Linked DNA regions of Homo sapiens: region 1 is linked to region 2. Evidence: fine-mapped expression QTL. A gene starts in region 2. The other region holds a variant in brackets. All regions are shown on one strand. Distances are between the middles of the regions.

What was found. PIP is the estimated chance that this variant, and not a neighbour inherited with it, causes the effect.
Region 1: its variant is fine-mapped to the expression of FGGY-DT in testis (GTEx, PIP above 0.99).

What each region holds. Positions count from the first base shown.
Region 1 is chr1:59,143,582-59,148,959 of GRCh38, reverse strand. HSD52 (a long non-coding RNA gene) reads left to right here and starts at 2,153. Exons shown (of 3, transcript NR_027120.1): 1 at 2,153-2,284. RefSeq lists a silencer at 1,995-2,144 and an enhancer at 2,265-2,324. The variant G/A (reference allele first, on the strand shown) is at 2,297.
Region 2 is chr1:59,293,874-59,299,242 of GRCh38, reverse strand. It overlaps FGGY-DT (FGGY divergent transcript), which reads left to right and starts at 2,693. Exons shown (of 2, transcript XR_001738089.2): 1 at 2,693-2,874; 2 at 3,479-5,369. It overlaps FGGY (FGGY carbohydrate kinase domain containing), which reads right to left and starts at 2,149. Exons shown (of 16, transcript NM_018291.5): 1 at 2,093-2,149. RefSeq lists an enhancer at 1-690 and silencers at 2,108-2,197, 2,208-2,747.

The sequences.
Region 1 (5,378 bases), 150 kb after region 2:
CCTAGGACTGTGCTGGCCAGGTAATCCTTAGCTACATGAGGCTATGACACATTTGAAATGTGGCTAGGCTGAATTGAGGTGGGCTATAAATGTAAAATACATACTAGGTTTCAAGACAGTATAGAAGAAAATATGTATGATAGTGTGTTAATTTTTTATGTTGATTACACGTTGAGATGATATTTTGGGTATATTGGGTTAAACCAAATATGTAATTAATATTAAATTTACTTGTTTCTTTTTACTTTTTTAAATGTGGCCACTAGAAAATTTAAAATTAATTATGTGTCTCACATCATATTTTGATTGGACAGTGCTGCTCTAGAAATCTGGGAAGCTTCAGGGAGCAGGTACGTCAGGGGAACAAGAACCCAGAGGAGGTATGGGGAATGATGAGAGAAAATTAAAAAAAAATGCTGAAAGCAAATATGAATTACCAACTCTCTAATCTGCAGGTCAGAAAGGGTCATTGCAACCTTTGCAAGCCCCAAATCTGAGAGGTTGGGGCCCACCAACTTATGAAAATAGTATCATTCTCAAAACAAGCTCCAGCTGTGAGCCAGGGGATGGTTAACGGCTGTTTTTGAGGCAGATTTTGTAGATGGACGAGGCAAGAATCATTAGGGCAAAACAGTAAATCAAATTGGAGGGTAAAAGTCAATCCTTTAACAATGGCTGGGCCAGACCTCTAACATCTTCCTGCCCGCCCTTTTACCTCTCTGGCCTCATCTCCTACTCAGCTTCTTCCCCATCCCTGCCCCTACTCCAGTTACAATGGCCCGTTTGATGAGCCTCAAACACATCAGGCATGCTCCTGACTCGGGACCTTCGCGCTGGCTGTTCCCCCTGTTGGAAACGCTCTTCCCCTAGCTATCCTATGGCTTAATATCTTAACTCACCTCATCAATAAGGCCTACCTGCCCATCTTATTTAGAATTGCAACTCCAATTGCACTCCTTTACCCTACTCTTGTTTTTCTTTTTGTAACTGTTACTACCTTCTAACATATTCATTGATTTACCTTTTATTGTGTTTACTGTTAATCTCCCTATTAGGAAGTATGTTCTCCAAAGACAGGGATCTCGGTTTTATTTCCTTCATTATCCCCCATACCAAGTCAGTGCCTGGCATAGAGCACCTGCTGAATTAACTTTGTTTTTTGAATGAACGAAAGCGTCAATGGTGATGCTCAGGGCAGGTTTGGTCAGTGGACAGGCATCCTCTGTGTACCCTCTCCTCTCCGGAAGAAAAGGACTCTTTTTTCCTCTCCTGCAGTTGGATTTAACTAACCTCGCTTCCCGTTCAGCGTTTACTACTCAGGGTTCTGCCCTGTTCTGGATCCCACACATAGGCTCCCAAGAGAGTAAAAGAAGCAGTGAATGCAGAGGAAAACGCCCTGGATTGGAAGCTGGGATTCCTAGGTGCCCTCCTGGCTTAGCAGCAACGCACTTGTTTCCCCAGCTGTCAAGGGTTCCAGGCTCAGTGGGAGGCTGAACAAGGTGCTGACCGAGTTCAGAAGAAAAATGAGGGGAAAATCGTTACCTAAAGGGCAGTGGCTCTCCAGGGATGGTCCTTTGACCAGAGGAATCAGCATCACCACCCTAAACCCACAGAATCAGAAACCGTGGAGGGAGCCAGCAACGTGTTTGAATACAGCCTCTGGGTGATGCTGATGCACTCAAGTTTGAGAACTGCTACTCTGGGGGAAAGAAGGACTTTGTTGGAGCCTTGGAGGCAGGGACGGACTTCATAGGTCAGGCGAGAGGACAGGTCCCCGCGAGGGCGGACTAGCACTGGGTTGGTTCCCTGCATCCAAGGCCGCGCAGGGTGGTCCCAGCCCCAGTCTGACCTGGGAAGTTGGAAAGGCCAGGGCTCCTACGTGCTCACACCTCCACCCCAGGAAAGTCCCGGCGGCGAGGCCGTGACCCTCCGCCGGAACGCCCGCCTCCCTGCAGCCTCAGCCCCGCCCGGGAAAAACCGCTGCGACCCGGGGCAGGTCCGTTCCCGCTGCTCGCAGCCGGCGGTCCCTGGCCCGGCGGTCCCTGGCCTAGCGCCCCCGCGCCGCGCTGGTGGGGAGCGCGGCCCCTCCGCCCCGTGGCAAGTTCCCTTCTCAACTGCCCTGCGCCTCCGCTGGCCCGCGTGAAACCCTCTCTGCTGCCTCGACTGACTGTCGTTTCCGTGTCTTGATTGTGGCCTCTGCCTCTCCCCCTTCCGATTTCGTTCGACTTCTTTCTACAGTTACTAAGCGCCCACTGTGTGCCCTGGAAGGGACTAGACTCAGCAGGTAACGGGAAAC[G/A]AAGGCACCTGCCGCTCTGAAGTTTCTCCGCATCTCCCTCCATCCTCTGTTCCATCCCCATTCTCAGCATTTGTCCCCTCCCTCCTCTTCTTTTTTTTTTTTTTTTTAATTTAATCTAAAGGAACCTTGCTTCTGGAAGACCTCACAGTAGAATTAAAAAGCCTACTTTTATCTGACTTCTAGAGAGTTGCAATTAAAATGTACATCTTACCTTGACTCATGCCAACAAGTTAAGCTGTTATCAGCTATTAACACCTCAACCAGAATTAGTTTATTAACCTAAAGCAGACAGCTTTATCCTATGGAGGTCGCCTACTTGAGATAAACTATTATTCACATACTTTCACTTTTGTGCCACTCACTCATTCAAAGAAAAATATTCAGTCGTTCAACTATTTATTGAGCACCTAGTATGTGCCAGCATTGTTCATGACTAGCACTGGTCGATGGCAATAATATTAACTACATACGACATTTTAAATTTTCTAGCAGCCACATTAAAGAAAGTGAAAAGACATAGGTAAAAGTAATTTTAATAATTTAACCCAATATGCCCTAAATATTATTTCAATATGTGATCAATATAAAAATTATCAATAAAATATTTTACATTTACTTTTTTTTTAATGCTGTGTCTTTGAAACTTTGTGTGTATGTTACACTTCCAGCACATCTCAGTTCCTGCTAGGAACATTTCAAATGCTTAATAGCCACATTGGCTAGTGGCCACTGTGCTAATCACTGCAATTCTAGACACTTGGAGAACAGCTATGGAAAGACAAAGGTAGAAAGTCAGTAAACTCATGAACAAATAAAATAATCATAAGTAGTGTTCAATGCTAGGAAGAAATTAAAACAAAGTAATGACATAGAATGATGGACATTACCTCATTTAACCTTTTCAATTCCCCCCTCAAGTTGAATAATAGTATATAACAATGTTATAGGCCGGGTGTGGTGGCTCACGCCTGTAATCTCAGCACTTTGGGAGGCCGAGATGGGCGGATCACGAGGTCAGGAGATCAAGACCATCCTGGCTAACACGGTGAAACTCCGTCTCTACTAAAAATACAAAAAATTAGCCAGGCGTGGTGGCGGGCACCTGTAGTCCCAGCTACTCAGGAGGCTGAGGCAGGAGAATGGCGTGAACCCAGGAGGTGGAGCTTGCAGTGAGCCGAGATCCCGCCACTGCACTCCAGCCTGGGCGACACAGCGAGACTCCGTCTCAAAAAAAAAAAAAAAAAGAAAAAAAAAAAACAATGTTATATAACAATTTTATAGCTATGAAAACTGAGGCTGAGACACAAAGAGCAACTTGTCCAAGTGCTTACAACTGGTAAATTCTATGTCCAGGATTCAGATCCCAGCTTGACTGTCTTCCATGCTCATTCCCATTACCCTACAAGGCCAGGTCATAAAGAAGACAGAGGGGAGGGAGGAGGAGTTGAATGGCTTTTGGGGTTTAAACTTTTGAGCACTGAACTAGGAATTTGGTGCTGCTGTGTGTTATTGATTAGGTCTCATGACCTCTCTGGGCCTTCCTCGCAGGTAACATGGAAAGCTTGGCCTTTTTCACTGGACCATTCACAAAGGGAATAAAGAGTTTTGAATAAAATAGTTAAACTTTTTATCCTCAAATGTACCTGCTTTTACACAAGTTTTGTGAAAAGCTCAAAGTATTTTTTTCCTTAGTTCGGGTGGACTAGACTAAAGACAATGGAGACAACATTGCATAGTGCTAGAAGCAGGGGGCTTTGAGTGGTGGTTGGCTGGTCATCCTAGCTATGGGAACTTAACTGTTTTGAGTTTCAATTTTCTTTATTTTAAAGCAGGTATCTACCTCATGGCATATTTGTAGAAGGGAAATGAAATGTTGCATGTAAGCATTTAACATAGCAACTAGCACATAGTAATCACACAATAAATATTGGCCATTATATTAACAGCCCCCATGGGTATTATACATTTGGCATTAGAAAGACTTGAATTTGAGTCTTAAATCTATCACCTACAGGCTGTGTGACTTAAACAAATCAATTAGTATATCTAGTTCATCTGAAAAATGGGAACAAGAACATTATTTGTACAATCTGCCACAGTGTCTCCATAAATGTCAACTAAGATTCTGTATGTAAATGTGCTTTGCAAGCTGTGAAGTGCTGCACTCATGTTGATTAATCTTGGTGGTTACTTTTCTGTCAAGGCTTCATATCCAGTCCTTTGCAGATCTGAGCTGCCTCATCATTGCCTTTGTAGCAGAAAACTGAGAACTCAATCTTATTTTTCTTTGTACTAGCAGCACTCATCAAAATGTTTTGTGTGCCAGTGTGTCCAGATTATTAAAGTTAGGAGTCAGAGGATCTAGTTTGGCCTCTGCTACACACTGGAGGTGTAATCTTAGACCAGTCATTTAACTTCTCCAAGCTGTTTTCTTAGTCCCAAAATAGGAATAGTCTTAATATTTGACTTTCCTACTTGTTGGGGTTATTCAGGATGATAAAAGAGATAAAAAGCCTGTTGAACACCATATATTTCTATAAAGGCTGAGGGGAACATTCCTAAGCATTATTCCCAGTAGGCAGCATGTCTTTCCTCCTGGCAGCTCTTAGCCTTGCAAAACAGCCTGATAGAACTACTAATGGTTTCCTGCCTAGGTCCCTGCTGTTTCATGCCTCGGTGCTTGTGCACTTTGCACAGGCTGGTTGCTCTGCTTGGAATGCCCTTCTCCTCATTTCCTCATCTTTAAACCTCACTCCTTATTTACGGGATGCCTAAGAAACTCATTTTCCAAAATCCAGCTTCAAAGAGTCTTCTCCCTAAAACCCATTTAGACCCATTCAACCAAAGTCAATTACCACCTCCGCTCTGTGTCCCACAGTAACCAGTAAAGACTGCCATCATATCTCTCATCACCCTGCAGTACAACTATTGTTTAATTATTCATTTAACGGCAGCAGAATAGCACAGCAAAGAAGCACATAGGCCCTAGAAACTGGGTTCAAATCCTGGCTCTGATACTTAACTAGTTGTGTTGGGGAAGTGACTTACTATCTCTGTGCCTCAGTGTCCTTAACTGTTAAGC
Region 2 (5,369 bases):
TGCCATGCTTGTGTAGTTCTGCACATGCTGTTCCCGGTTCATATAATCCCTCGCTCTTTCTCCAGCCCACTCATACTTAGGCTTTGGAACTCGGCTCCAGTATTCCCTTCTGGGAAGTCCTCCCCAAATGGCTTCCCCATGTTGAGCCATTTGCCCTTCTCTCAACTCCTGGGAGTCTTCGGCATACCTTTTCAATGTACTCATCTCACTATCACATAATCTCCCTCATCAAAGTGGATTGAAGCAAACTGGATGAAAGCTTGAAAGCAGAGACCAAGTCTTACTCATCTGCACTTTCCCAGAGACTACCACAGTTCTGGGCCCAAAGTATGTGGACAAGATGAGTGAACAAATGAATACATGAAGAACTGATTTGGATGATCTCTGACACCACCTGGGTTGATTCTATGTCCCTCCATTATAAAAAGGTGGGCGGGTGAGAAGGTAAGTGATCTCTGTAGCACGTTCTGGTAAAATAATCATTTCAAATCCCCCTGGGGGTGGAGGTAGGGGGTTCCACTCTGGCTAGGAGATTAAGGGCAAGATTCATTACCTCAAATTATTTTAAAAACCAGCTGGTAATTGACTGTGATTTAAACTATTTAAATCAATAAGTGAAAGGTTAGGTAAAGGGAACTATTTAAACTAATAAGTGAAAGGTTAGGGAAAGGGAACCAAATTCCAGGAAAAGCCAAGGCCCACAACAAAAACTAACACAGCCTGGAAGGCCCAGCCTCCTCCCAGTAAACTTATTAATTTTATCCAGAAAGACATGGCTCTCCACCCTCTGGGGTTATGCCCTTCTCCCAGCACACATGTTTTGACTTCCAAATCCAGCCAGGCAGGCTCCCAACCTCCCTCCCCCTCAAAATTGATCTCCAGGCCCAGCTGACCCCCTCTGATCTGTTCCCCCAATCATCCTTAATAACAGTGCTCTGGGCCTCCCACTAGGAGGTCCTCCAAGAGCCAGGCCAGTGGCCATCAGGTCAAGAGCCAAGCATGAGGGCCCCATTAACAGGAGACTCCCAGAAGACCAAGCGGCAGTCATCTGGCTGGAAAATCCAGCAAGCAAGTTAAAAAGGAAAAAAATCAGGACATACACGTGGTGGATCATAGAAAAAAAAGAGGAAAAGCAAGCAAAAACTATACAAAGCAAAACTCTACCATTTAAATAACAGCCACAAAATAAAAGACTTTCCCTTCTTTCATTCTGATTTACAAGTCAAAAGAATAAGCACCTCACCCCTCCTGGTCTCATACTTTAAAATTTAACCTAAGGATTAACTGCTTTTCAGACTTTGGTCATGTCATGACTGACTCTTCGGGGAAGAAATTTGTGTTAAGACACAGAAGTGCTTTAGTGGAAAACAGCCCATGATGAGGGAAATTCACCATTTTGCACCTTGTCAATTTTTTTTTTTTTTTTCTGAGACGCTCTGTCCCCCAGGCTGGAGTGCAGTGGCACGATCTCAGCTCACTGCAAGCTCCGCCTCCTGGGTTCACGCTATTCTCCTGCCTCAGCCTCCCGAGAAGCTGGGACTGCAGGCGCCCGCCACCACGCCCGGCTAATTTTTTGTATTTTTAGTAGAGACGGGGGTTTCACCGTGTTAGCCTGGATGGTCTCGATCTCCTGACCTCGTGATCCACCCGCCTTGGCCTCCCAAAGTGCTGGGATTACAGGCGTGAGCCACCGCGCCCGGCCCCTTGTCAATCTTTAAATAAAAAGGAAACGGCTAAAAATGAAAAGATATCCCTAGGCCTTTCTACTCAGGATAACTGTAACCAAACAGCATTATCTCATCTAAACTCAGCTGTGCCTCAAACATTATCACAAGTGCTGGAAGCGTTTAAATCTACAAGCAACACTAGCCTAAAAATGCCTTCGGTAGCCAGACGTGAATTAAAGGCTCCTCAAATGCCAGGAAAATGTCCTACAAGGGTAAGGGGAGGAGAGAAAGAGTACTGAATACAGATAAGTGGGCACTGATCGGAGAGGAAGCAGCACGGGTTCCAGACACCTAATAGGCAGCCTTGGGGATGCAGTCAAGGCCGACCCTTCCCTTCCCTTCCCTTAAGTGGCCGGACGCCTCACCCAGAAGAGGACACAGGGGACTCAACAACGTCTCGGGAACAACGGCCCGGCGGGTGTGAGACTAAGCGGCCAGGAGGAGGAAGGGGAGGAGGAGGCAGGGGAGGAGGAGGCAACGACTGCGGGAAAGGGGAAGGAAGGGCCGGGCCGGGTTGGAGAAGCCTCTTTCTGGGCGTGCGCGCTAAGAGCCTGCGCACCAGCAAAAGCCCCCAGCGCCCACGTGGGACTGAGAGGAGGGTCACTTACAGTACTTGTCCAATCTGAAATTACATTTTAGCTAGACGGATTCTGCACGTAGCCGCGCCGAACCCCACGGCGCCTGAGCAGGGCGGTCCCGGGGCGGCTACAGCCCCGCCTTGCGCGCGATCCCGCCCCCGCCGGCGCGGCCCCTGTAAAGCGCGGCCCCTGTAAAGCGCGGCCCCTGTAAAGCGCGGCCCCTGTAAAGCGCGGCCCCTGTAAAGCGCGGCCCCTGTAAAGCGCGGCCCCTGTAAAGCGCGGCCCCTGTAAAGCGCGGCCTGATTGGCCCTTTGAACCGGGCGTGGGATTGGCCGTCGCCTGCCCACCCCGCGGCTGCAGCGTTCCCTGGGGCCTAGCCAACCGCGGGCAGGGCTGGGCAAGGCGGGAGGAGCGCGGACCCAAGATCGGCTACGCTGCGTCTGCTCAGGCTGCGAGTTCCCGGCTCTGGGGACTCACCTTGCGGAGCTTACCCAGGCGGACTCTCCGCAGCCCCTGATGGGTGTGTGTGTCAGACCGTTTACTAAACACCAGGACTGTTGTAGGCGACTGTAAGAAATAAGAATATTGCATGGTTACAATTCTTGAATGCTTACCTTGTGTCTTGTTCCTTACTCTACAGAAATTTTCTAATCCCGTGGCGAACCCCCGTACTTCAACGTATGACATTCTGTAAATCTACAAAACAGATGGGTCCCTGCCTTTGAGAAGTTTTTACAATTTAGTGGGTACTGGACACGGACCTAATTTAATTCTCACATGCCTTCCCTTTCTAATAAGCTGCATGTTATGTATCCCTATTCTACAGATGTGGGGAATCCGAAATTTTTAGCTTTTACTGGGACACACAGCTAGCAAGCAACTAAAGCGAGAATTCCAACCTGAGCTCCAATCCGAACTATTTTCATAAAAGGCAGGATCCCAGGCTGAGGGAGTTCGAGGTTTGGGAGACAGTTTAGCAGTCGCTGAGTCCAAACATGTTGTTTTCCTAGAAAAGAAAACTGAGATCCAGGAAAGGGAAGTGATTTTCCAAAGACACACCTGTGAAAGGTAATAATTTCACTGAACGGATCTTAAGTGGCAGGTGCACTAAGATTGTCTGCTATCTTCACAACAACCCCGAAGTAAATAAGTGCTCTTATCTTGGTCTTACAGGTGAGGAGAACAGCCCAGTGAGGCTGAGGCCACACAATTAACCCCAGTCTTTGCACTACAACTCTACCAGGGATCCTGGTTTGGCTCATTTTCTTTCTTCTGCACCATGATTGTTCACCTTTTCATTACCAGCAACATACCCAAAGACCTAGCTATAGACTCGTTGGAATCTGTTACTTAGCAGCTGTGTGAATCAAGTGTTCAATAGGAATAATAAGATGTATTCATCTTACCTTTTCAGAACATTATGAAGAACAAATGTGGTAAGACATATGAAAATGCTTTGTAAAGTGTTAGATGCTTAATACACAGAAGACATTGCTTCCAGATCTGTTTCAACGTACCCCAAGAATGGAATAAGTGGAATATGCTGGTTTCATGCACTGTGGCAAGGGGGTCTCATCTTGGCTAGACTTGAATAAGTGGATTTGTTGCCTGGCCTCTGTGGATGGCTCTTTCTCTGGGCTTTTGTGTATTTGATTTTTTATTTGCTCCAGCAGCCGTGTTGAACCATGAAAGGACCTCAGGAATGAAACCCACACACAGCAAAGCAACAAAGTGAAAGAAGCGTGGATTCCTAATGCAGGAGGCACTGAACCAATCAATACCCACTGCCCTCCAGACCTCCACATGAAAGAAAAAAACTGCTGTCCTGTGTAAGACACTTTTATTTTGTGTTTCTATTGTATGAGGTCAAACCTAATAACAGATATATTACACTCTAACAGATACATTACATTGTATAGTAGAATTCTCAGACAGCAACCTTATAAGGTGATAGATGCAGAAACAGGCCCAAAGAGTAAAAATAATTTGTTCAGAGTTTTCCAGCCAAGTGGCGAAGGTGAGATTCTTACCTGGGTTTGTCTGAAACCAATTTTCACTATCTTTTTCAGTTATGATACACTGCCTATTACGAATGAATGAATCCTTTTTTTTTTTTCCATTTACTTCCATTTGATTCATTTATTCCAGGGAGTGACACTTTTTCTGTAAAGGACCGATAGTAAATATTTTAGACTTTGTGAGCAATACAGTCTCTGTTGCAACTACTCAACTTTGTAATGTAAAAGCAGCCATAGACAATAGTAAATGAGTAGGTATGACTATGTTTCAATAAAACTTTACTTACACAAGCAGGCAATGGACAATGTGGCCCATGAGCCTTAGTTTGCCAACCCCTAATGAAATGGGAAAAGTTCCCTTGTCCCCTTCACAGGGCGTGCGATGTGGGTGTGACTCACTTCTTCAGTCCCCACTGCACAAACCTCTAGGGAAGCATACAGACAGGTAGGCTGTGGAGATCTGACCCCACGGCAGTGTCTAGGGGTGACTGTTTACAGCCAAAGCCCCAGTGGGCACATGTAGCAGGGTGCTCTTTTAGTTTAGCCGTCCGTGGGTGGCTTGTGTTAGCCAGCTCAATTAAACCCCTGCCTTATTGCAAGGACAGAGGGCTTTCTGTATCTCGGGGTTCTTGCCTTGGTGTAGCAGAAGAATTGGATCACACGTGGGCTTGGAGAATGATTGCAAGGTTTTATGGAGTGAAAGTAGCTCTCAGCAGGTGGAGGAGCCAAAAGGGAGATGGTTTTCCCCTGGTGTCGGGCCGCTTGGCGGCCCAGGCTCTCCTCCCACTGCCCCAGCCAAACTCCATGTCATTCTGCCAGTTGGTGGCCTGCTGGCGTAAGTGTGTTCTCTCAACGTCCAGCTGCCCGCGTGTTCCTCCGCTGATGTGCTCCTCTCGACGTCCAGCCGCCTGTTTGTCTACCTGCTAGGGTCTCATGGTTTTTATAGCACAGGATGGGGGTGTGGCAGGCCAGGGTTGTCTTGGGAAATGCAATATTTGGGCAGGAAAACAAAATTATGCCTGTCCTCACCTAGGTCCTTGGGCACA